4 linked regions of the Homo sapiens genome follow. The protein of the gene in region 2 purifies or fractionates together with the protein of the main gene of each other region. This does not show direct contact. Each region holds a gene or a part of one and is shown on either strand. Other genes may lie near its edges. The genes, in order: EDEM2, CLU, HSP90B1 and LMAN2L.

Evidence for each region.
Region 1: the proteins of CLU (region 2) and EDEM2 purify together in Homo sapiens (affinity purification with mass spectrometry; 2 studies listed by BioGRID and IntAct, with this or other methods). This does not show direct contact.
Region 3: the proteins of CLU (region 2) and HSP90B1 purify together in Homo sapiens (affinity purification with mass spectrometry; 2 studies listed by BioGRID and IntAct, with this or other methods). This does not show direct contact.
Region 4: the proteins of CLU (region 2) and LMAN2L purify together in Homo sapiens (co-immunoprecipitation; 3 studies listed by BioGRID and IntAct, with this or other methods). This does not show direct contact.

What each region holds. Positions count from the first base shown.
Region 1 is NC_000020.11:35,130,297-35,137,344, forward strand, and holds part of EDEM2 (ER degradation-enhancing alpha-mannosidase-like protein 2 isoform 1 precursor), read right to left. Parts: intron 4,654-7,048; coding exon 4,442-4,653; intron 1,488-4,441; coding exon 1,346-1,487; intron 1-1,345. Other genes in the region: MMP24-AS1-EDEM2 (ER degradation-enhancing alpha-mannosidase-like protein 2), read right to left, coding at 1,346-1,487, 4,442-4,653. UniProt on the Homo sapiens protein: Involved in the endoplasmic reticulum-associated degradation (ERAD) pathway that targets misfolded glycoproteins for degradation in an N-glycan-dependent manner.
Region 2 is NC_000008.11:27,597,672-27,604,719, forward strand, and holds part of CLU (clusterin isoform 1 preproprotein), read right to left. Parts: intron 6,725-7,048; coding exon 6,620-6,724; intron 2,339-6,619; coding exon 2,109-2,338; intron 965-2,108; coding exon 789-964; intron 580-788; coding exon 570-579; 3' UTR 1-569.
Region 3 is NC_000012.12:103,933,410-103,940,409, reverse strand, and holds part of HSP90B1 (endoplasmin precursor), read right to left. Parts: intron 6,455-7,000; coding exon 6,123-6,454; intron 2,716-6,122; coding exon 2,604-2,715; intron 2,071-2,603; coding exon 1,951-2,070; intron 902-1,950; coding exon 785-901; intron 1-784.
Region 4 is NC_000002.12:96,705,389-96,709,072, forward strand, and holds the end of LMAN2L (VIP36-like protein isoform 2 precursor), read right to left. Parts: intron 2,446-3,684; coding exon 2,326-2,445; intron 2,011-2,325; coding exon 1,868-2,010; 3' UTR 541-1,867; downstream 1-540. UniProt on the Homo sapiens protein: May be involved in the regulation of export from the endoplasmic reticulum of a subset of glycoproteins. May function as a regulator of ERGIC-53.

The sequences.
Region 1 (7,048 bases), on a different chromosome or scaffold from region 2:
TGGGGTCAAGCAATTCTCTCGCCTCAGCTTCCCAAAGCACTGGGATTAAAGGCATGAGCCACTGTGCCTAGCCGAAAAAGTTTAATTTATAAATTAGGCATGGGAAGAGATTAACAACAATAACTAATAATAAAGCAGAACAAGTATAACAATATATGTTATAGAAGTTATGTGAATTTGTCTTTTTGGTAAGAGACAGGAAAAAAAGAAATTATGTAAATTTAGTGCCTCAAAATATCTTTGTTTTTTTAGAGAGGGGGTCTTACTATATTGCCCAGGCTGGTCTCAAACTCCTGGCCTCAAACAATCCTCACTTCCAAAAAACTGGGACTACAGGCGTGAGCCACTGCACCCAGCCTCAAAATATCGTATCTGACTGTACTCACCTATTTTCAGACTGCAGTTGACCATGGATAACTGAAACCATGGAAATCAAAACTGTGGATAACGGGGGACTACTGTAGCTATAATAATAATAGTAATTAGGTGCTCAACAATTCCTCAAGATTGCTAGTGTCTAAGGGCCTGGCGGGTAAGATGTATTTATTCAACAGGTATTAATCTATTACCTACCACATGTAAAGCACTGTGGGGAACATAAGATGAGTAAGGCATGGATTCTGCATTCAATTTGTAGAGCTGTAACTGTTGATGAGAGCTAACTGCAAGAAAGATGCTGAAGGTCCCAAATTCTGTAGAAGGATCAAGCTACTTCCTGGGCAAGGCGACATTTAAGTTAGGCTTTGAAGGGTGAAAAGAATTTGGACATAGGAAGACAGGAAAAAAGACATTCTAGGCAAAGAAGATGCCATGTGCAATGGCCAGGAGATAAGAAATCCAGGGCTACATACACAGAATGCAGCACGCTTCAGTTGGCTTTTGCAAGAAGGCATCAAGTGCTGTAGTGGGCATGAAGTGGGCAGTGTAAGTCCATAGTGACTCTGAATTCAGAACTGATTCTGCAGGCACTCAGGCCAGGCGTGGTGGCTCACACCTGTGATCCCAACACTTTGGGAGGCCAAGGCGGGCAGATCACCTGAGGTCCGGAGTTTGAGACCAGCCTGGCCAACATGGTGAAACCCCGTTTCTACTAAAAATACAAAAATTAGCTGGATGTGATGGTGTGCGCCTGTAGTCCACACCATCACATGCCCAGCTACTCAGGAGGCTGAGGCATGAGAATCACTTGAACCTGGGAGGCAGAGGTTGCAGTGAGCCTAGATTGTGCCACTGCACTCCAGCCTGGGAGATGGAGCAAGACTCTGTCTCAAAAAAAAGTTTTTAAACAAATCACACATCAGCAAGAAAAATGAGGGGAAAAGCTCCCTTACTCTGCCATTTTTACCTAGGAACATGGCCATGAGCTTCTTATCCTGAAGCAGGATGGCTCCTTTCACCAAGTACTCAAAGTAGGAGTCCACGCCAGCCCCGATGCCTGCGTCCTGGGCCACCCACTTGCCAGTGAGCACATCAATGTGGTTGCCGACCTGAGAGAGAGAAAGACACACGGTCCCAACGGGAAGGCCGATGGCCAAAGAAGGATCTACTCACCCCCAACCCTGACTGCCCAGGGAGATGCAGGGCAGGTGCCCCAGTGCTTCTTGGGAAACATGCAGACCCTGAGAGGGAAGGGCAATGCTGGATCATGGCCAGCCTTCCTGTACATCTGCATAGTAGAGATGCATCTCATGCACATTTATGAGGACTTAATTATACACATTGAGCAAAAAATGAAAAAGAAAAATGATTTGGAGTGTTTATGTCCTGCCTAGAGTGAGTGTGAGATGGGAGATGAGAATTTGCTGTTGCCGCAATCTGTCTGATTTCTCAGCACCCAGCATGTGATTCCACTATCTGAAGACACAGACGTGCTTTACGTATTTCCATAAATTAACTCAATAAGAACATCCACCAAGAAGCTGACAGAGTGGTTCTAAGGAGAGAAACCGAATAGCTGGAGACAGGGGCAAAAGGGGACTTCACCAATGTCACTGAGTACCCTTTTTTGTATCCTTTGACTTTTTTTTTTTTAATTGTTCAGTCTCTGTAGAGACTGTGAAAAATTGGCAATGCCGGCCAGGCGCGGTGGCTCATGCCTATAATCCCAGCACGTTGGGAGGCTGAGGGGGGCAAAATCACTGGAGGTCAGAAGTCCGAGACCAACTTGGCCAACATGGTAAAACCCTGTCTCTAATAAAAACACAAAAATTAGCCAGGCATGGTGGTGTGTGCCTATAATCCCAGCTACTCAGGAGGCAGAGGCATGAGAATCACTTGAACCCAAGAGGGGGAGGTTGCAGTGAGCCGAGATCGTGCCACTGCACTCCAGCCTGGGCGACAGGGGGAGACTCTGTCTCAAAAAAATAAACAAAGATACGTATTTTTCTATTTTATTGTATTTATTTTATTTTTTGTATTTTTAGTAGAGACATGGTTTCTCCCTGTTGGTCAGGCTGGTCTCGAACTCCCGACCTCAGGTGATACGCCTGCCTTGGCCTCCCAAAGTGCTGGGATTACAGGCGTGAGCCACTGCGCCCAGCCAAATATATGTATTTTTCATATGGCTTAGACCCTCATGGAAGCTGGTAACTTCATCTGGTACTCAAAGAAATAGCTAACTGTTCCGCGTTGGTTTGTGTCCCCCCAGGAGCACAACCTCATTCTGCCTGAAAGTAGTTGATTTGGAAGGTAAGTCCTTGTAAACACCAGTAGAGGAGGGGGAAGTGAGGCAGGGCAAGGGAGGCGGCATTTAAGGGGTATGCCATCAGGCAGGTTTCCACCATGGGAACTGGAGTTCAATCTTGCTGGGGAGCTTAGGAATTCAGTGTAGAGCTCCAGCTTCGGAGTGATCCCACCCAAGGGGCAGGGAACTGGAATGTTTATCCACCAACTCCCATCAGTATCAGTTACCGGCTTGAGAGCTACTCATGGGTAGCATTAAATCCTGGTACCCTCAGCCAAAGGCAAGCAGAGTGGCTCCAGGCACCAGAGGAGACCCACAGGCAAAGAGGCGCAGGTGATGGCAGTTGGAAGACTGGCCAGTGTGCATGGAAATGTTAAGAGTTGAGAGGATATGGGCATGGCACCAACAGAGTCTACTACGGTCCCACTGCTGGAGCAAAACCTGCCTGAGATGGACTAAGGGATTTACTACAGGTCTCCAGCGGGGCACCTTTTTTTTTTTTTTGAGATGGAGTTTCGCTCTTGTTGCCCAGGCTGGAATGCAATGGCGCGATCTCGGCTCATCCCAACCTCCACCTCCCAGGTTCAGGCAATTCTCCTGCCTCAGCCTCCCAAGTAGCTGGGATTACAGGCATGCACCACCACGCCCGGCTAATTTTGTATTTTTTAGTAGAGATGGGGTTTCTCCATGTTGGTCAGGCTGGTCTCGAACTCCCAATCTCAGGTGATCCGCCCGCCTCAGTCTCCCAAAGTGCTGGAATTACAGGCGTGAGCCACCGCACCCAGCCTTAGGGGGGCACCTTCTTAAGGGATTTTCGGGGAGTCCTCACACAAGCTTTACTTTTCAAGCTGGATTAGCACCAGACTGCATAAAATGTGCCTAGACCTAAATGCAGTCTTCCTAAGTCAGAGTGACTCAGCAAAGTTGGTATTAATATATTAACGTTACTGCTGAAGTAACTGAGGACCAGAGAGGTTGAGTGACTTGCTCAGGGTCACACAGTTTCGATGTAGCAAGGCCAGGGCTTGAATCCAGTTCTGACTAAATCCAGTGTTATGTCCTGGATGGCTTTGGCTCAATTACTGTTAATCTTATTGATTATCCCATTTAGAAGCTGAAACTGACCTTAGAGATCATCTGGTCCAAAGTGTGTTCAATTTCCATGGGTTAATAGTACTGGAAGATAAAGGGAAGCTCTGGTGTTAAATAAGTTTGGGAAATGTTAAATTAAACAAAGTTGAATAGATTTCTTTACTAGAGGATTTTTATTCTGCTCATGTGCATTCTGACTCTCCAAAAAAGGGGGGGATATTATATCTAATATTCCCCTAACTTAATTGGCCAAGACTCATTTTTTCATGCAACTGCCACTCAGTATCTCTCAGAACCGGTGTCCTAAGAAACACAGCAAATACAGATAGACGCTAAAAATGAAGGCCGGACGAGCTGATGATCTGAAGCCGTCAAGTGAGTCAGGGGCATGAAACATACGACCCTCTTCCTAGAAATCAGAGAATCTCAACTGGTCAAAGCTGAATGCAGCCCCTGCTGCCTGCCAGAAACGTGCTTTCCCACTCTCCTCCCCACTCCAAGCCAAACTTGAATTGGAGGCTTGGTCTATTTTTGGTGTCCTGAGCCCAAATCCTGGACCACTCCCAAGGTCACCCTAAGTTTTCCTTGGCTTGACTGCAACTTATTGCTCAGAGCCCTGGGCCTCGTAAGCAGGGACTCAAACAGGAAGGGCAGCAGCGAACCTACCAGCCCGATATCTGACCGGCTCTCCCAGAGGCGCATCAAAGCCACTCTGGCCACATCTTCGAACACCGGGTCACCAGTGAGGCTGCTCAGGGTGGCAAATTCAACAATGAAGGTCCCAATCCCTGCCGTACAGGTGACAGGGGTCTCTCCTGGGTTCACGCCATGAAGTAAGTTCACTGTTCCATATGGCATGCCAGTGGGGGTCTGAAAGGCTGAACAATCGACAAATTATGATCCCGGACAGGAGCAGGGGGATAGGGATAGTTCTGATACACGCCCAAAGCCTGGGACCTTAGCCAGCACTTCCCTCTTTCTCCTGGGTATCCTGCTAGAGTCTGAGCCAGAGAAAGATAAATGTCATAACTGGAGGGCCCTGAGCAGCCACCCAGCCCAGATGCTGTCAAACACTGCTCTGCATAACCTTGGGTTCCTGCTCATCATGAGGGGGCAGGGAGCAGGCTGTGCTCCACACACACTCGCTTTAGCTAGAGAGCTTTACCTATTTTTATTTATTTTACACTACGCCTTCAAAGCCCAGGCAGGTAACTTATTGTGATGCAGGCAGGGTTTAAGCCACAGAAAGTGGTGGGGCTTGTGGCACAATGACAAGAGTAAGCCCCGTTCAAAGCCATTCATAGACTTTTGGCTCACGCCTATAATCCCAGCACTCTGGGTGGCCAAGGCAGGCAGATCACTTGAGGCCAGGAGTTCGAGACCAGCCTGGCCAACATGGTGAAACCCTATTTCTACTAAAAATACAAAAATTAGGCAAGCGTGGTGGTGCACGCCTGTAATTCTGGCTATCTGGGAGACTGAGGCACGAGAATCGTTTGAACCCAAGAGGCGTGGGCTGCAGTGAGCTGAGATTGCACCACTGCACTCCAGCCTGGGTGACAGAGCGAGACCCTGTCTCAAAATAATAATAATAATAAACAAAGCCATTCATAGACTTTAAATAAAGATCTCTGCTTTAAATAAAGAGTATAGGGGCTAAATTATTTTTAAAGGGAAGCAAAATAGGATATAAACCACTAAACCACGGATATAGTATGACCCTCGATTTATAGGTAGGGAAAACCATGCCTGTAAAGAAGTAATTCAGCCACAGGTCACACAGAGAGAGTCAAACAGAGCTGGGATGGGAACGCCTCCCCTGTGCCCACCCCAGCCCCAGTCCAGTTCTCTGCCCGCCCCACCCAAGTGGCACCCAAGTGCCTTCTGGTTCAAGACGAGAACTGGACAACCAGCCAGAGGCAGAGATTTCCTCTCTGGGCCTAAAGGTCAAACAACTCCAGAGCAGCCTATGCGTCACCAAACTGTGAACAAAGGTGTCGACACTTCCAAGAACCACAGGGTCTAGCAACTGTGTCTGCCACAGACAAGAAACTTGCAATCTGGCAGGCACCAGCGGGAGAGCAAGTCACAACCAGGAAGGGCTCTAAGCAATATTTCAGAAAAAGTCAGGCTGTAATAAAAAGAAGAGGAGTGACAAAATCCTGTTTCTTGACCTTTTTTTATAAAATGACCAATGACCAAAAATAATTAAATTATAAAGGAGGAGCAGCTAGGCAGAGTTTCCAGAGTTTCCTCCAGGGATGAATCACACAGGACACAATGTCTGCAAGGAGACGCTCAAGCCATGAGCCATGAGCCATGAGTGAGACCTGAACCTAGCTCACCCGCTATCCTCAGCTCTCCCCCAAAGGAGAGGCAAGTGCTATGTGAGAAGGATAAAGAGGCCGGGTGTGGTGGCTCACGCCTGTAATCCCAACACTTTGGGAGTCCAAGGCAGATGGATCACTTGATCCCGGGAGTTCAAGACCAGCCTGGGCAACATGGTGAAACCCCATCTCTACAAAAAAAAATTTAGCCATGCATGGTGGCATCTGCCTGTAATCCCAGCTACTCAGGAGGCTGAGGTGGGAGAATCAACTGAGCCCAGAAGTTCGAGAGGCTGCAGTGAGCCATGATCACGCCACTGCACTCCAGCCTGGGCGACAGAGCAAGACCCTGTCTGAAAAAAAAAAAAAAAAAAAAATTAAGAAAGAAAAGGGATAAATAAGTGAGATGGCCAAGAGGTGATGGAAAGCACAGTGTGACGTGTCTGGGTGTGAACAGTCCTCAGAGCCTCCACCACACCCTGAAGGGAACACAGTGTACAGTTGATGCTACTGAGCCTGGTGTTACTGCCCCACTAGACAAAAACATGGAGGCTTGACCTGCAGCCCTGGACACAGCTTAGCCACAAAACAAATCCCTCTCGTTTTAAAAGTGTTGGACGTTCTCTAAGCAGTTTCTCCTTCCTGACCTCATTTTAGCCTCTCCAAAACCCGATGTGGTAGGGAAGTAGAAATTATGATTCTCATTTGATAGATGGGGAAACCAAACTGTGGAGAGAGGCCAGACACAGTGGCTCATGCCTGTAATCCCAGCACTTTGGGAGGCCGAGGCAGCCAGATCACTTGAGGTCAAGAGTTTGAGACCAGCCTGATCAACGTGGCGAAACTTCATCTCTACTAAAAAATACAAAAATTAGCTGGGCATGGTGGCAGGCGCCTGTAATCCCAGCTACTCAAGAGGCTGAAGCAAAAGAATTGCTTGAACCCA
Region 2 (7,048 bases):
GATTGTCGCACCTTGGTCAGAATACATCGACAGTTTTATAATAGAACAGAAAAGCTTCCATTTGCAGCAATATATTTTAGTTGGCTTGTTGAAACACATCTCTCTTCCTGAAAGCAAGCAATTCTTGAAGTGGATCAACCTTGTCATCATATCCCTTTTATTCTTCACCCTTTTATTCTTCACTGGTATGACAGTCCCTATACCATCTTAGCCACTGCTTTTTTGTTTCTACTTATTTTCCATCCCCCCTGCCTGCCCCCCATAGCAAAATGAAGGCATGCCGGGAAGCAGCAACTCAACATAAAAAGAGGACCCTCCAAGCGATCAGCTCACAAGACAGTTTTATTGAATTAGTTGCATGCAGGAGCAATTCTGTTCTTCCCATGAGCAGCAGAGTCGAGTGTTAGAGTGCAGGATCCAGAGCGGGGAGAGGCTGGGCGGAGTTGGGGGCCTGGAGGCTGGGGCCTGGTTACTTGGTGACGTGCAGAGCTCTCTCTGGGGGGCTGCAGCTCATCTTGGGGGGAGCTGGACTCAGATGCCCCCGTAGGTGCAAAAGCAACATCCACATCTCACTCCTCCCTGAAATAAAAAACAGTTATCCTCCAAAGTAAAACATCCTCCAAAGGAAAAATAAAATTCCCCCGTAACTTCCTGGCTTTGTTCTTGGGCTCTGGCTCCGGGCGGAGTCGTTCCCACCAGGCTATAGAGTCTGCACTTTGTTTGTTTTTTTGTGGCTCCCAGAGACTCACTGGGCCCTGCAGGCCCGCAGGAAAGGCCCGCCTGCTTACCGGTGCTTTTTGCGGTATTCCTGCAGCGCTTTCTCCGCCACGGTCTCCATAAATTTAGGGTTCTTCCTGGAGACTTCTACAGGGACCGTCACAGTGATGGGATCAGAGTCAAAGAGCTTCACGACCACCTCAGTGACACCGGAAGGAACGTCCGAGTCAGAAGTGTGGGAAGCCACCTAAATGGAACAAGAGAAAAGGGAAGAGCTGAAACACTGTGGTCAAAATGCATGCGCTCTGCAACAGAAGTCAGGCTTCTGATAAGGAAGTCCTCCTGCTTCTCCAAGGAAACCTAGAGAGCTGACCCCATGCTTCTTATACATCTAGACGTAAGTACAGCTCAGTGGACAGAACGGACCTGGTTCACAGACACTCATGTGTTGGGGCAAATGTCATCTGCAAATGACCAGCCCAGGGAGCACCCCAAAGAATAAAAGTGGTTTCCAAACATTTGCTTTAGAAGCAGCCCTTGGTCAGAGTAGGGTAGAAAAGGAATCCAGAGGGCCTGGAGGGAAGAAAGAAAAGAAAAAGAAGAGTTCCCAGTACTAGAAATAAGTTTTATTTGATTTTTTAACTTTATTTTATTATTTTATATATATATATTTTTTAAGAGACAGAGTCTCACTCTGTCACCCAGGCTGGAGTGCAGTGGCGTGATCACAGCTCACTGCAGCCTCCACTTCAGGGCTCAGGCAATCCTCCCACCTCAGCCTCCTGAATAGCTGGGACTACAAGTGTGTGCCACCACACCTGACTGATTTTTGTATTTTTTGTAGAGAGGGAATCTTGCTGTGTTGCCCAGGCTGGTCTCAAATTCCTGGCCTCAAGCAATCCTCTTGCCTCTGCCTCCCAAAGTGCTGGGATTACAGGCATGAGCCACCATGTCTGGCCTAGAGAGAAGTTTTTATCACTGGCAGAGAGTGATGTACTAATTCATAAGCCATTTTACATGCCAGAGGGCAGCCTTGTAGCTTTGAGAAAAGAACAGAGGCTTCTGGTTTATTCACAGATTTGTGCACCAAAACAAAAACAACAACAACAAAATACAGGCTTGGCAGCCAGGCAGTCAGGTTCAAATACCCGTCCAAGTCATCTGTCAGCTATCACACCTTGGCCAAGCTGTGGAACCTCTCTTACTTTGCTCCTTTGTAAAGCAGGGTTATATTTTCCCTGAGTGGGTGATGAGGCTTCAAGGCAACAGGGGCGCCTAAAGTTTTCTATTTTCTGCCGTGTGATAAATGCTCAGTCAAAAGCACACATGCCCCTGCTCCCGATCACAGCTCGGGCTCCCGAGCCACAGCATGTGGCCGGGACACAGCTCACCGTGGTGACCCGCAGATAGTACTGGTCTTCGCCTTGCGTGAGGTTTGCCAGCCGGGACACCCAGTTAAACTGCTCGTTCAGCTGCTCCAGCAAGGAGGAGGTGTTGAGCATCTTCCACTGGTAGGACTTTAGCAGCTCGTTGTATTTCCTGGTCAACCTCTCAGCGACCTGGAGGGATTCGTCGAGCTCCCGCCGCAGCTTAGCCTGGGAGGGGTTGTTGGTGGAACAGTCTGCCCAGAGATGGAAGAAACGCAAGTGAGAAGTGTGAAGGGAAGGCTACAAAGGGATAGAACCATGAATGAATGGAAGTTAGCACATGCAGCGGGAACAAAAGCAGTGCTTCCCTAAGGGAAGGGCCACAAACTGGAATTGTCCACGACAAAATAAAGGTTTTGCCTCAGAATGTGAATCTAGACACTGCTTCCGTCATCCAGAAAGTCTTTTGGGTTTTTTGTTTTTGTTTTTGTTTTTTTGAGACAGAGTTTTGCTCTGTTGCCTAGGCTGGAATACAGTGGTGAGATCTCGGCTCACTGCAGCCTTGACTTCCCAGGCTCAGGCTGTCCTCCAACCTCAGCCTCCTGAGTAGCTGGGACTATAGGCACATGCTACCATGCCCAGCTAATTTTTGTATTTTTTGTAGACACGGGGTTTCTCTGTGTTGTCCAGGCTGGTCTCGAACTCCTGGGCTCAACCCATCTGCCCAAAAAGTGCTGGGATTACTGGTGTGAGCCACCACGCCCAGCCTGAGAAGCCTTGCTCTGGAAAAATACGCCAACTGACCTAAACAGTGTGCTTCGTAACATCATTGATTTATCTTTGGGTGCCAGACCCTTATCTCTTTGGTGACAAACTGTGTTGACCACACTTCCAAAAGCACTGATCTCAAGTTCTCCATGTTCTCAGACCTGGAGTGGCTCTCGTTGCCCTAGTCCCTCCCGGGAATCATTTCCAGAGAGGAGGAATATTACTCACAGCTGCCATTCGTGTGGCACTGCCTTCGTCCCAGACACCGCAGAAAGTTCTCTCTGGATATCCTTTTTCTCTAAGAATTGGATCTGTTCTGACTTAAGGATTAGGACTTAAGTCCTAATTTTACCAATAATGAAATAATTTTTACCAATAATGAAACTGAGGCCCACAGAAGTATCAATAAATAGCTTACCTAAAGCCATAGAATAAATGATCTCTGGGCCCGGGATTGAACCAGGGTCTTCAGCTCCTAAGCTTGGGCTTTTCCTACCCTGGATCTGTGGTTCTGGACAATCCTCCAAGCTTGTCTTTTTTTTGAGACAGAATTTCGCTCTTGTTTCCCAGGCTGGAGTGCAATGGCGCGAGCTCAGCTCACTGCAACCTCCACCTCCCGGGTTCAAGCAATTCTCCTGCCTCAGCCTCCAGAGTAGTTGGGATTACAGGTGCCTGCCACCACCCCCGGGTGATTTTTTTGTATTTTTAGGAGAGACAGGGTTTCACCATGTTGGCTAGGCTGGTCTCAAACTCCTGACCTCAGGGGTCCACCCACCTCGGCCTCTCAAGGTGCTGGGATTACAGGTGTGAGCCAATGCACCCGGTCCAAACTTGTCTTTTGAGCATGTCTGTAGAGGTGGCAGTTCTGGTGCCAGGAGTTCATGCAGCTGATGCACTGGCACCTGGTGGCCAGGGGTCCTTGCCTGCCCACCTGCCCGCCCATGGCTGGTCAGTGAGTTCATCAAGAGAGCAGGGAAAAGAGAATTCATTCCTCTTGGCCCTGGGCTGCAGGTTGTCAGATTCATTAAGACCTGGAAACTGTCCACTAGCTCTTAAAACTACTGTTTTTCTCCCCCTAAGGTATTTCAAAAATATCCAGAGGCAGGTACATCAAACGTGAGTCAGGGGAAGGGAGATTTTGCATATGCTTTAGGATGATGACTGCAATCATTTATAGTAAACAAAATGTTAGGTGGGGAAAGAAACAGAATTACTAACAAGATGCCAGTTTGAAAATAAATATGTAATAAATAAACTTCATTATTTTACCAAAAAAAAATTTAAAAATAAGAAAAACTAGCTCACACCTGTAATCCCAGCACTTTGGGAGGCTGAGGCAGGCTGATCACTTGAGGTCAAGAGTTTGAGACCAGCCTGGCCAATATGGTGAAACCCTGTCTCTACTAAAAATATAAAAATTAGCCAGGCGTGGCGGTGCACGCCTGTAATCCCAGCTACTCAGGAGGCTGGGGCAGGAGAATCGCTTGAACCCAGGAAGCAGAGGTTGCAGTGAGCAAAGATTGCGCCACTACGCTCCAGCCTGGGTGATAGAGCGAGACCCTGTCTTAAAAAAATAATAATAAAATAAGAAAAATCCTTGAGAGCTGAGGCTTAGTCTAGAATAGAGGTTCTCTACTGGGGTGACGCTGTCACCCAGGGAGATTTAGCAAGTTCTGAAGCTGGTTGTCACAACAAAGGGAAGGGAGCTGCTGACCTCTAGTGGGCAGAGGCCAGGAATGCTGCCAAACACCCTGAACTGCTCAGGACAGCCCCCAACGACAAAGAATGACCTGGTCCAAAATGTCAGCACTGCTCACACCTGTAATCCCAGCACTCTGGGAGGCTGAGGTAGGAGGATCACTTGAGCCCAGGAGTTAGAGACCAGCTTGGGCAATGTAGCAAGACCCCATCTCTACTAAAAATAAAAAAATTAGCCAAGCATGGTGGAGCACACCTGTAGTCTGTTACTCAGGAGGCTGAGGCAGGAGGATGACTTCAGCCCAAGAGGTCTAGGCTGCAGTGAGCTGTAATGGTGCCACTGCACTCCAGGCTGGGTGATAGAGAGAGACCCTGTCTCAAAAAAAAAAAAAAAAATCAACAGCGCTGAAATTGAGAAATCCTCATCTAGAGTTCCCAGGCAGTACGTGCTTATATGGTTGCAAGCACCTTAAATAACAGTAGGCAGTCCTCTTCAGTGTAGACTATTTAGCTCAGCTTAGAGAATTATTCTTACCAATAATTCTCTAAGAATCTATCTCAGGTCAGGCACAGTGGCTCACACCTGTAATCCCAGAACTTTGGGAGGCCGAGGCGGGCAGATTACTTGAGGTCAGGAGTTCAAGACCAGCCTGGCCAACATAGTGAAATGCTGTCTCTACTAAAAATACAAAAATTAGCTGGGTGTGGTGGTGCACACCTGCACTCCCAGCTACTTGGGAGGCTGAGGCAGGAGAATCACTTGAACCCAGGAGGCGGAGGTCGCAGTGAGCCGAGATAGAGCCACTGTACGCCAGCTATAATCAATGACTGATAAGACTGGCGCTGGCTGCACTCTCAACTGTAATCAATGACTGTTAAGATTGGCGCCAGACCTGAGCCCAGCCTGGGCAACAGAGTAAAAATCAGCATAAGAGGTCCAATCTGGGCACAGGCATCTGGACATCTTTTCTCAGACCCTAACATGACTTTCTTGTGGTGAGGTACCATGTAATTGATGCCACTCTATGATATTTTTTATAGAAAAAGCCCCAAGGCCTGGTTGTGCACTCATCTACAGCAACTTATACTTCAGCCTGTTAAAGCACAACTGTTTATTTTGCAGTGGCTTCTAAAATTATAGGAGTGAGGCTAGGAATGTTTAACTAGACCCTGGCGGCCTGCCATGGCAAACTCAAACTAAGCATTAAGTAAGAGCAAAGCCACCAGATCGATAAGCTGTTGACAAGGGGAAACAATTAACTCTTTGTGAGTATGAACTGCTGTGTACCAGGAACTAGTCCAAATACTGTCACAGCTGTTATCTCTAAGTGGAAAGAAGTTAACCCATAACCAGAGCTGGTGAAACGGAGGGGGACAGTTAAAGGGAAATATTCCCTTTGCCTAGGGGACCAACCAACCGACCAAAGGGACTATTGCTTGGATGCCCAGGTACTGAGACCCGTGACTTCTGTGGCCAGAGGCTGCGAGGGGCCCCAGGAGAGAACACAGCGCCCTAGGATTGAAGCCCAGCTCGCCCATGTCGGGGTCAATCTTGGATAAGTTATTAACCTTTCTGTGGCTCAGTTTCCTCAGAGGGTCATTCTGAGGAAATGAGGAAATGTATGTCGAGTGTTTAGAACAGTGCCTGGCCTCTGGTCAGTTTTGTTAAACAAAACACATACTGTCTGCAATGTCATAATCTGCAGAGGAAAATGAAGATGCCTACTGCGCTTGGCGCTTGGGAACAGAATCACCGGGGAGTCCCAGGGGGATGACTTTTTTCAACAAGCTTTTTTCAACATGGGGCCGACCAGGTGGAGGGCACTTTTGCATCTCTAACGACATCTCACCGACTTCAGGGACAGCCTCGCATCATCATCTCATTCTAAGATGAGGAACCGAAGCTGCATGAGGCTCAGGACCTGCCCCGGGACACAGCTCAAAGGCTGCAGAGCTGGAATCCAAACGCTTATCTGTCTGACTCCATAAAGGCAGCACCAGTGAGGCCCCAGTGACCCCAGGACACAAGGGATCAGGGGGGACGGCTTGTGGTCTGGACCCCGACTCACCCACAGACAAGATCTCCCGGCACTTGTCACACTGGTCCTTCATCCGCAGGCAGCCCGTGGAGTTGTGGCGGATCTCCCGGCACACAGTCCGGTCATCGTCGCCTTCTGGGGACACACGAGGGAAGAAGAGTCAGTCATCCAGCCATGCAGAGATGGACTCCACTGATTCCTATTGTTATTTTTATTTATTTTTTAATTTACAGACAGGGTCTCACTCTGTTGCCCAGGCTGGAATGCAATGGTGCAATCATAGCTCACTGCAGCCTCCAACTTCCAGGCTCAGGTGACTCTCTTGCCTCAGCCTCCCGAGTAGCTGAGACTACAGGTGTGCACCACCACACCCGGCTAATTTTTTAAGTTTTTATTTTTGTAGAGACAGGGTCTCACTATCTTGGCCAGGCTGGTCTCAAACTCCTGGCCTCAAATGAT
Region 3 (7,000 bases), on a different chromosome or scaffold from region 2:
AACTTTATCAATGCTAGTTTTGCATCCTTAAGAGTTACAAGAAGGGATCAATAAAAGAAGAAGAAAAAAAAAAACAGGCAAGGAAACATAAATTTAGTAATTATTCCCAGGCATAGGATCTCACAATAAGTGTTTGATGTCATAAGCAAGCTCTTTAAAGATTATATTAAAAGCCACTTAACAACATGATTTCATGTTTTACGGGTTTTGTGGTGGAAATCACACATCTACCTATGTAGGTGGTTCTTAATCTTTTTTTGTCACACAAAACCCTTGGCAAGCTGGTGAAGGCTACAGATGCCTTCTCAAAATAATTTTTTTAAAAAAATCACATATTACAAAATACACAGGAATAAAAAGGAAACCAATTGTGTTTAAACAGCCATAAAACTGTTTCAAACATTCTTGATTTTGTAGTTTCACTATTCACTAAGAGCTAGGACTAATTTTAATAACTGCTGCAATTTTGAAGTAGTGATGAGTATAATAATTCAACTTAAGTAAAAATGGTGTGTTCTGGAAACCAATTACTCTCAAAGACCATCTCTACTGAGGTGTCAATCTCAAAGGTTCATAAATGTGATTTTAATTGTGACTAGGTCAATAAACCAGAAGTAGACATATTATAGTTGGCCTAAAGGTCTTTTTTTGAATTTTCTCACTGGGAAAAAATGGGAATGGACCATCTCATATTCATGGTCACATACCATATACAATTAAACTAAGAGGGTGATATTTTGTCTATTCATTAATAACCAGAAACTAGGGAATTATAAATATTTACCTTTGAAAATGATTTGTAGAAAGCTTTGTATTCATCTTCTTCTACTTCTTTTGATGGTCTCTGCCATATTGGTTTGATATCATTCATAAGTTCCCAGTCCCAGACAGTTTTTTCAACCTGAAGTTATTATAGTATTTGATTAGTCTCTCTCAGCACTCACCAAGGTTATCCTAGCAGTAACCATGGCTTCAGTAGATTTCAAAAGACTATGTAAAGACCCAGAGGACTGGTGTGGTGGCTCACGCCTGTAATCCTAGCACTTTGGGAGGTTAGGGTAGGAGAACTGTTTGAGCCTAGGAGTTCAAGACCAGTCCAGGCAACATAGCAAGACCTCCAACTATACAAAAAATTTTTAAAACTTAGCCAGTCATGGTGGCGTGTGTCTGTGGTCCTAGCTACTTGGGAGGCTGAGGTGAAAGGACTGCTTAAGCCTAGGAGTTCAAGGATGAAGGGAGCTATGATCGTGCTACCACACTCCAGCCTGGGTGGCAGAGACTCTGTCTCCAAATTAAAGAAAAAAAAAAAAAGGGCACCAAAGGATACCTGTTATCTAGTAAGGTTTCTGCCAACTGTATCAAAAGCAAAGTATTTTTCTCAATATTTAATTCAAAAAGACAATTGTTAACTGATGAAAAGCCACTTAAGTTTTTCTTCATTGTTATTTTTTAACTAGCAAAAATGTTTCTTGAAAATATTTGTTTTGAGGTTAGAAGGAAATACATATTATATATTCCCATTTCATGACTTAAAGAAATCCAACATTTTACAAAAATATTTCTCAACCACCATGATCAATACTTCTTAGTCTGCTACCTAAGCAAGCCAGAGAACCATTTTTATGGTTAATCTCTGCATGATAAAAAGACAAAAGAGGACTCAGAAGGCTTTTTAAGATTTTAAAATTCCAAACATATAAGCCACCAGTCCTAGGCAATATATAAAAGTTAGAAAACTCTTCATAAAAATGACCTGGGTTTGATACTTAAAACTTTCTACAGGACAATGTATTCAACATACAAACAAAGGCCTTATTTTAAAAGCTGGCTCCATGGACTTAGCACCTGAACTGAAGCTGACTTCAAATCAGCCAGTGCATACTTAGGTTTTCCTGGTTTTGCCTATACATGTTAAACAATATCTTATGCAGGGAGATAAACCAGACTTACTTTTTTAGTCTTTGGTTTCTTTTCTTCTTCTTCTTCCTCTACTGCAGCTTCATCATCAGATTCTTCTTTCTCTTCTTTGGCTGCTTCTTCTTCCTCCATGGGCTCCTCAACAGTTTCAGTCTGTTGAAATAAGAGAATTATGGTTAAACTCATTTGTTTAACAATTCTGATTTTGTCTACAGAATATGATATAACATTACAGGTCAAAAAATAGGTTTTTGTAAGAAAACCCTGAGAGTATCCTTAACTAATAGACCACATTTTGCCTTCATTCTTTTTTTTTTTTTTTGAGACAGAGTCTTGCTTTGTCACCTAGGCTGGAGTGCAGTGGGGCGATCTTGGCTCACTGCAACCTCCGTCTCCCGGGTTCAAGCAATTCTCCTGCTTCAGCCTCCCGAGTAGCTGGGATTACAGGCGTGTGCTACCACACACCCAGCTAACATTTTTGTATTTTTAGTAGAGACAGGGTTTCGCCATGTTGGCCAGGCTGGTCTCGAACTCCTGACCTCAGGTGATCCACCTGTCTCGGCCTCCCAAAGTGCGGGGATTACAAGCATGAGCCACCGCGCCGGCCTGCCTTCATTCTTTTAGTGTTGAATATTTAAATACGTGCCAAGGTAATACATATAAGTTTTTAATCAATATAGATTTACCTTGCTGCTCCATACATAAATAGGAAAGTTTATGAACTGTGAATATTTTTTGACGAGATTTTTAATTGTATCCAATTCAAGGTAATCAGATGCTTCTTCTTTTAAGACAAGGCTGCAAGAAAAATTCGATGTTTAGAGACACCTAACATTTAGAAGATCTGATTATAAATTCATTTAAATACCATGGTAATAGCCAGCAGTTCAGTATAATCCAAGATGTCCTAATTATTCATGTTAACTCTCCATCACCAACAAGGGTTTGTGAGCTAAAATGTAACACATGTAGATACAGTAAAGAGAAGAATCTCCTCTACATTACCTCAAGTGGAGAATAACCTTAGTTTTAAGTAGAAAATTAAAATATTCCCAACCGTCTGAATAGATTGTTTTCATTTTTCAAGGTGAGAAAGCACTGAAATATTCTGGAGAGAAATGGAATCATGCACTCTCATAGCTCTTACTGTTATTCCAGAAACCTAATGATTATTGTAGATAACTATTCCTAATTAATGAAAACATTTTCCTTAAAAAAGCTAGAAAATTAATCTGGTTTATATTTATATCTGCACTATCCAAAATGGCAGCCACTGGGCACATGTGACTTATTTAAATAAAATGTACAGTTCAGTTCCAGTTATGCTGCCACATTCCAAGTACTCAACAGTCACATGTGGCTGGTGATCGCCAAAATGGAAAAGTGCAGATATAGAACATTTCTACTATTATATAAAATTCTACCGGGCAGTGCGGGGATTACAGGTGTGAGCCACTGTGCCCGGCCTAGAACCTACTCTTAAGCACAGTAGGTAGTCCATATCTTGATACTTGTGTTCCCAATTAAGTATGGGAAATGGTCTATCTATGGTTCCCTCCCTGTCTCAAAAGGCTCATTAGTTTAGTGGTACCTGGCCAATAAGTAGCCATGATATGACAAAGCCTAGTGAGTGACTAGGCCCCTGGTCTCAGAGCACATGTTCTAGTGATTTGGGGATTAAGAGTTCAGTTTTGGATGCAAGTAGAAGCTGCTGGTTAGATATCTTAGGTAGAAGCATTTAAAAGGCAATTAAACACATGAACACAGAGCCCAGTAGTGAGACCTAGACAAGGGGCTGGCAAGCTATAGCTGTACAGCTGGCACCCATTAGAAATTTTATTGGGACACTTTTTTTTTTTTTTTTTTTTTTGGACCTCTGTCACCCAGGCGTGATGATGGCTCACTGCAGCCTTGACCTGCCAGGCTCAAGCAATCCTCCTACCTCAGCCTCCTGAGTAGCTGGGACTACAGGCATGCACCACTGTGCCAAGCTAATTTTTTATTTTTTATTTTTGTGGAGATGGGATCCCATTATGTTGTCCAGGCTGACCTCAAACTCCTGGGTTCAAGTGATCCTCCCACCTCAGCCTCCCGAGGTGCTGGGATTATAGGGATGAGCCACCACACTTGGCTGGGACACATCCTTATGTATTGTCTATGCCTGCTTTCAAGCTAAACAGAGTTGGGACATGTGACAGACCATATAGCTCACAAGCTAAAAATATTTACTAGCTGGCTCTTTCTTTCTTGTTGTTTTCTTTTATCTTTTTTTCTACTAGCTGGCTCTTTTAAGAAAAAGTTTGCTAACTCCTGATCTAGGCTAAGAATATAAATTTGAGAACTAGAGATGGAACCTGAGGCCGTGGCAGTGGATAAGACTACATAAAGATCACATGGACAATGAGAAAAGGGCTGAAACTTAACTTGGAGAAAATGTATGTTAACATTTAAGAAGTGGGCAAAGGAAATTTTTAAAAAGATATGCATGGTCATGGAAACTAGGTCCTGGATAGGTGTTAGCAGCCATCGTTCCCTGCATGGAACTGTCCTGTTTAACCTCACTTATTCATACAAATGGCTGCCAATTAAGTGTTAAGCTTTGGGAATGGAGCTTCCAACAAAATGTTTGCCTTCATGGAGCTTATATCCAGATAATTTCACCTGCTTCTTAGCAACCTGACATTAACATCTCTTGGGACATCACTTTCTATCTTTCCTTGGGAATGATTGCCCTATCCTTCTCCAACATCTAGCCCAGTGCTTAAAAAGAGAGGGCACTGGGGCATAACTCTTAGTGATGCCTCCAAATGAAACCTGGAGACATCAATGTTAGTGACGAAGGCAGGGGAAGGTAAATTGGGAACACAAGTTAAAAAAGTACTAAAATGCAGTCATCTAATTAGTCTTCATTAAAAGAACATCTGCTGCAGTAAAAACAGGAAATGTTACTTTCTAGGATGAAGAAAGTTGGTCACAATGATAAGTATGTGCTTCTTTCCCTTAATGTTAAGAAAACTTAAAACTGAATTAAGAAAAAAAAATTGAAGCTGTGGGCACATTCTGTTACTCACTTAGCAGGAGTTGGCAAGCCAACTGACCTCTGAAATAGAATTTCCTCATCTCCAAGATGGTAAAATTTTAAAAAGGCAAAAAGCTGCCCTGTCTACGTCACAGTGCTATAAGCAACGAGAGCTACTGTAGGGCACTGGCTCTGTCTCACCCATACAAACAACAGTTACTGGCTTAAGAGGGATCTTAATTCAAATTTAAAAACTTGTAACTATCCTTAAATGACGTATTTTATTCCACAGCTTTCACAACTTTCATGAACTTTCTTTAAGCCCTTTATCTCTACAAGCCAGCCCCAGCCCTGGTTGCTACCACTCATCTTGAATATTTTCAAGAGGAATATTTCCCCCAAAGAGTCTCCCCTTGTCCACTCCTCACATCCTCCACACCACCTTGAGAATCTTAAAAAGTTCATCACATTCTGGCTGGGCACGGTAGCTCATGCTTGTAATCCCAGCACTTTGGGAGGCCGAGGTGGGTGGATCACGTGAGGTCGGGAGTTCGAGACCAGCCTGGCCAACATGGAGACACCCCATCTCTACTAAAAATACAAAATTAGCTGGGCGTGGTGGCACATGCCTGTAATCCCAGCTACTTGGGAGGCTGAGGCAGGAGAATTGCTTGAACCCAGGAAGCGGAGGTTGTGGTGAGCCAAGATTGTGCCATTGCACTCCAGCCTGGGCAACAAGAGTGAGACTCCGTCTCAAAATAAATAAATAAATAAAAGTTCATCACATTCTATCCATAACTGCCACCGAAAAGAACTCTGTTCATCTAGTGAGCATGCTATGCCTCCATGCCTTTATTCAGGATGCTCCACAGACAAATTACTCTTCTAACCTGGGAAACTGACCAAGCAGTGCCTCCTCTGTGGGTACCCAAGAAGCCTTCTCCCTTGGGGAAGCTGCTGCTATTTCCTACTTTATACCCTCCATGTACAACAGCAATCACAAACCTTTGTGCCTGGCCCTTTGCAGGTCCTCAAACATTTCTTCAAGTGACAACAGTTCTGTTTCCTCATTTTATAAGGCAGGAAAATTAAGGCCCAGAATAAGTCATTTGCTCAGAGAATAGAACTGGAGAGTCAAGATCCTCACCATGACTATTAATTCTTATAAGGAATTGGTCATACTCACGTAATTGTCGTTCCCCGTCCTAGAGTGTTTCCTCTTGGGTCAGCAATTACAGAAAATTCATTGGAGTCAGACTCCCAGATGTGCTGGGTATCGTTGTTGTGTTTTGAAGTGACAATAACCTTATCTGCTACAAGGAAGGCGGAATAGAAACCGACACCAAACTGGCCAATCAATTCAGAAGTTGACTGGCCATCTTCCTGTGCTTCAGTCATTTTGTTTAAAAACTCGCTTGTCCCAGATTTGGCTATGGTACCAAGGTTTTTAACCAACTCTTCTCTGGTCATTCCTACACCGGTGTCTGTGACATGCAGCAGGTTCTTCTCCTTATCACACTAAATGCAAGACAAGAACCAGATAGTTGTATTTAATATTTACATTATGCCAAACAAATATTGAGGAACTAACCAGCTTTGGGTCCCATCAATTCCAATACAGAAAACTAAACTGAGATATTTTCCTCCACATAGTTTTTTATGGCCTTTTCTGAAAGTGTACATCTTAAAGTAATTTATGTATTTGAGAAAGTATTAATATCAAATGGGCAGACTGGCCTAAATGTCAAAGGTTAGAGGCTGACCTAAATAAAACAAGTTACCTTTGAAGGAAAACAATTCAAGAAAAATAAAATTTTATGTCTTGCCTATTTCTTTACTAGAATACAAAACAACTTGAATGATTCCTCTATTTGGAATCTGTGATGGATCATTAATATTCTTCACTCAATATTCCTGGCTGTCTGCCTTCCAGAAACTTAGGAGTACTCTACTTTCCATTTAAGAATGGCTAAGGCCATGTGACTAGTTTTGGCCAATGAGTTATAAATGGCCAATGAGTTGTAAAGGAGAGCTCTGTTTTCAGGCTGAGCCTTTAATTATAAT
Region 4 (3,684 bases), on a different chromosome or scaffold from region 2:
TGGAATCATACAAACCCTACAGGTTCCATCTCTCTCACTCTGCCCCTCCCCTCTGATGAGACCCCTTCCACCTGCACTGCTGCCTTGGCCATCTCAAGAGCCCACCTAGGTCCTCCCACGGGTCCATACAATCTCCCCTTCAACTCAAAAAAGACAAAACCACCATTTTCTTTTTCAGTTCTCCCTGCTCCAAGGCCAAGCTCTAGGTCAGTTTGTCCTCTGGCACCCTGGAGCCATTCTACTATTGTGGAGGGGAGGTGGGAGGAAGATGCCTCCACCTGAATCCCACCTGCAGGAGAGCACTATAGCCTGTGCTGTTTAAGTGCATGGGAAGGAAAGAAAGCCTGAAGAGACAGAGACCTCTGCCTAGCCAAGGTGACCCCCTTTCCTTCTGAGCTGAGCTGAGGGCTTTTCCAACCCAGGAGAAGGCAAAACAACGGTTGATGGGCTTGAAGCTCAAAAAAAAGGCCTGCTCAGAATAAAGGCCTGAACTTTCCCCAAACCCACTCCTAGAAGAAAGAACACAGTCAGAAGCTCATGTTTGGTTCCATCGGTGATTTTAAGAATTTCATTTAGGCTACAGAGGTTCATAGGAGGACTCAGAGTTCCAGGCCCTCCAAGGAGACTCTGGCCTGTAACTGATTTAATCCCAGGGCAGTAAGGTGAGCAGCATGTAACCCCTTGTCAAATAAGGCAGTGGAATAAGGGTTGACAGAGGCCAGCACTCAGGCTGTGCTGCTCAATGACAGTGAACTCTTCCAGGCACAGATGATGAGGGTCTGTTGCTCTCAGACTTGGAACATGAGAACAGCAACTGTCTCTTGTCCATTAAGAAAAAAAAAGCCAAATTTCTTCTCTGGGCAATATCCAAGCCCAAGGTGTAAGAAGAAAGCTTCCTTACACTTTCAGCACTCAAAGTGGGATTCCAAAAATCGTAACTACAAAACATGCAGCTAAGCAGGCTCTAGCAAGTCCAGAAACATCTCCACATGGTCAGACCACATGACAAATGTTGCTTTTGGTTTGATCAAACCTGGAGCTGGTCAGTTGCACAGCTAATCCATGGCATCCATGATGTCTTCCAGGCTTCTCTTGATTTTTACACCAACCTTTAGCCAAACTTCACTGAGGGCCTGAAGAGACTTGATTGGGAAGGCCATGGACATGCCAATAGACCCAAGACCCATGCTAGGGAACAGTGATCCAAAGCAGAAAGCCATCTCCCTAGGGCCACCTAATGAAGGCCAGTGAAACGCAGGTGTGTTCTGCAGCCCCAGGCCCCAACAGAGAGGCATCCAAATGCCTTTCCCAGCTCAGGTTGCACACAGAGAGGACAATGAATGGAGTGAAAGGAAGGTAAGGCAGGGAAGAAGTTTCCATCCTGGTTTCCAAAGAAAGCTCCTCAGGTAGGCAGAGGGTTGGGTCAAATGCAAAACCCAACGAATGGATGGTCAGAAAGCCTGTGGTGTTACCAGTTTTTAATTCTTTGTGGATTCAAAACTGAAGTAGAAGGGCCTTCTGAGTCAAACAACACGGCAGCCTGGGCTATGAAATTCTGTTCTGTGATTTTGGCATCACAACCACGTAAATTCTCTTCACACCTCTGCTCCCACATGGAAGGACTGCAGGGAAAGGCACATCACAGCAGCATTGCCCTGGGGTGGGTGGCTTCCCAGACCAGAGTTAGATGTCCCCATGCACAACCATGGGAATGCGGGGTCCCTGCATTCAAAACTCCAGTGACAGAATATAGTCCCCAACCAGCTGCTAGAGACAAGAACACTCTCCAGGCTGCATGCTCAGGCCAGTGCCTGCTCCTTCCATACCTCATGGGTGACAGTCACAAAAGTGGTGGCAGCAGGAGGGCTCAGTAGAAGCGCTTTCGGCTCTGTTCCTGCCATTTGTTGTAGAGTATGATACCAATGACTATGGCAAATACAGAAAACACCAGGGAGAAAAAGACGATGAGGAAGAGGGCCAGGCCACTCAGGGGCGGCAGTGGAGCTGTCACTGAGGAAGCAAGAGAGAAGCAAGTCAGAAAACAGGGAGCCCACCCAATAGGGAAGGATCAAACTATAGGCTGTCCGGCCCCCAGTTTCTGACACCTACTTCTGGGAAGCCAGAGCTTAGACCCCCTCTTTCCAACTGAGAAACAAAGCGGCCCTCCTGCTGCTCATCTGTAACTTGAAGGGGAAAGGCAGATGAAAGTGCTCCCTACCCTTCAGAAGAAGAACACAGAGCAGAGACCGCCCTGTGAGCTATGGGTACAGCACTGCAAGCTCCTCCCCAACTATGGGACCATTTCCCGCGGGCCCCTGTGCTCACTCTCAGGCAGCTTCATATTGTCCACTGAGGGCAAGAACACATCTCGATGGAGCTTTTCCTCTTCTGGGGTTCTCTCCACTGTCAGTTCAAACAACTTCAAGGAAATGACATCATGATTATCTGAAGAAAAATGGAAGAAGGATGACTTGTGCCACTTGAAAAAGAGGTATGTTTCTTGAAGTCAGTATCTTAGTTCAAGCCTCTGATCCACAGCTAACCAGCAGTGACCTTGAAAAAATAATTGAAACCTCTCCATTTTGCAACTAAAAATAAGGATGGGGAACAAGGCATATTCTATATCTTCTGTATTTAAGTTTTTATCAACAAGCATGCATTACCTGTATAGAAGATCGCTGACTTAAAATGGTTCGACTTACAATTTTCCAACTTTATGATGGTGTGAAAGTAATCTGCGCTTAGCAGAAACCATACTTCAAAATTTGAGTTTTGATCTTTTCCCAGGCTAGCGATGTGTAGTACAACACTCTGTACTGAGGCTGGGCAGCAGCAGTGAGCTGTAGCTCCCAGTGAGCCACACAATCACAAGGGTAAACAACCAGTACTGCATCGTGTACTGTATTCCATACGTTACATCAGACATTCAACACTTTGTTACAGAATAGGCTTTGTGTTAGATGATTTTGCCCAACTGTAGGCTAATGTAAATGTTCTAAGCACATTTAAGGTAGACTAGGCTAAGCTATGATGTTCAGTAGGGTAGGTGTATTGAATGCATTTTCAACTTACAATATCTACAACCTACAATGAGTTTATTGGGACATAACGCCATTGTATGTCAAGACGCATCTGTATAATTAAAAAATTTGGAGATAAAACCACAATTAAATCCCATATGTTAAACCTTCCAGCACAGTAAGAACAGACAAAGTAGGACTGCAGCTTCCCCGCTGGTGAAGACCACACACGTGCACACACACACACGTACAACAGGAAAAGGTCTCATGGCCGCTGTTTAATGGGCCATGGGCAGGGCACAGCTATGGGCATGGGATACACTGCCCTTCTAGACTATGCCTGTTTCTCTGTGGCTTCTTGTACTTGTGACTCTTAATCTCCCTAATAATTACCAGAGAGAAGATCAAGCAATTAGGGACTAGATTTCTCTCTTTAAAGTATCATTATAAACTCCTACATTTAACCATATCTGATGTGTTGCAATGCACTGAAGTTAGACTTTTTTTTTTTTTTTTTTTTTTTGAGACAGAGTTTTGCTCTTGTTGCCCAGGCTGGAGTGCAATGGCACGATCTCGGCTCACTGCAACCTCTGCCTCCCAGGTTCAAGCAATTCCCCTGCCTCAGCCTCCCAAGTAGCTGGGATTACAGGCATGCACCACCACG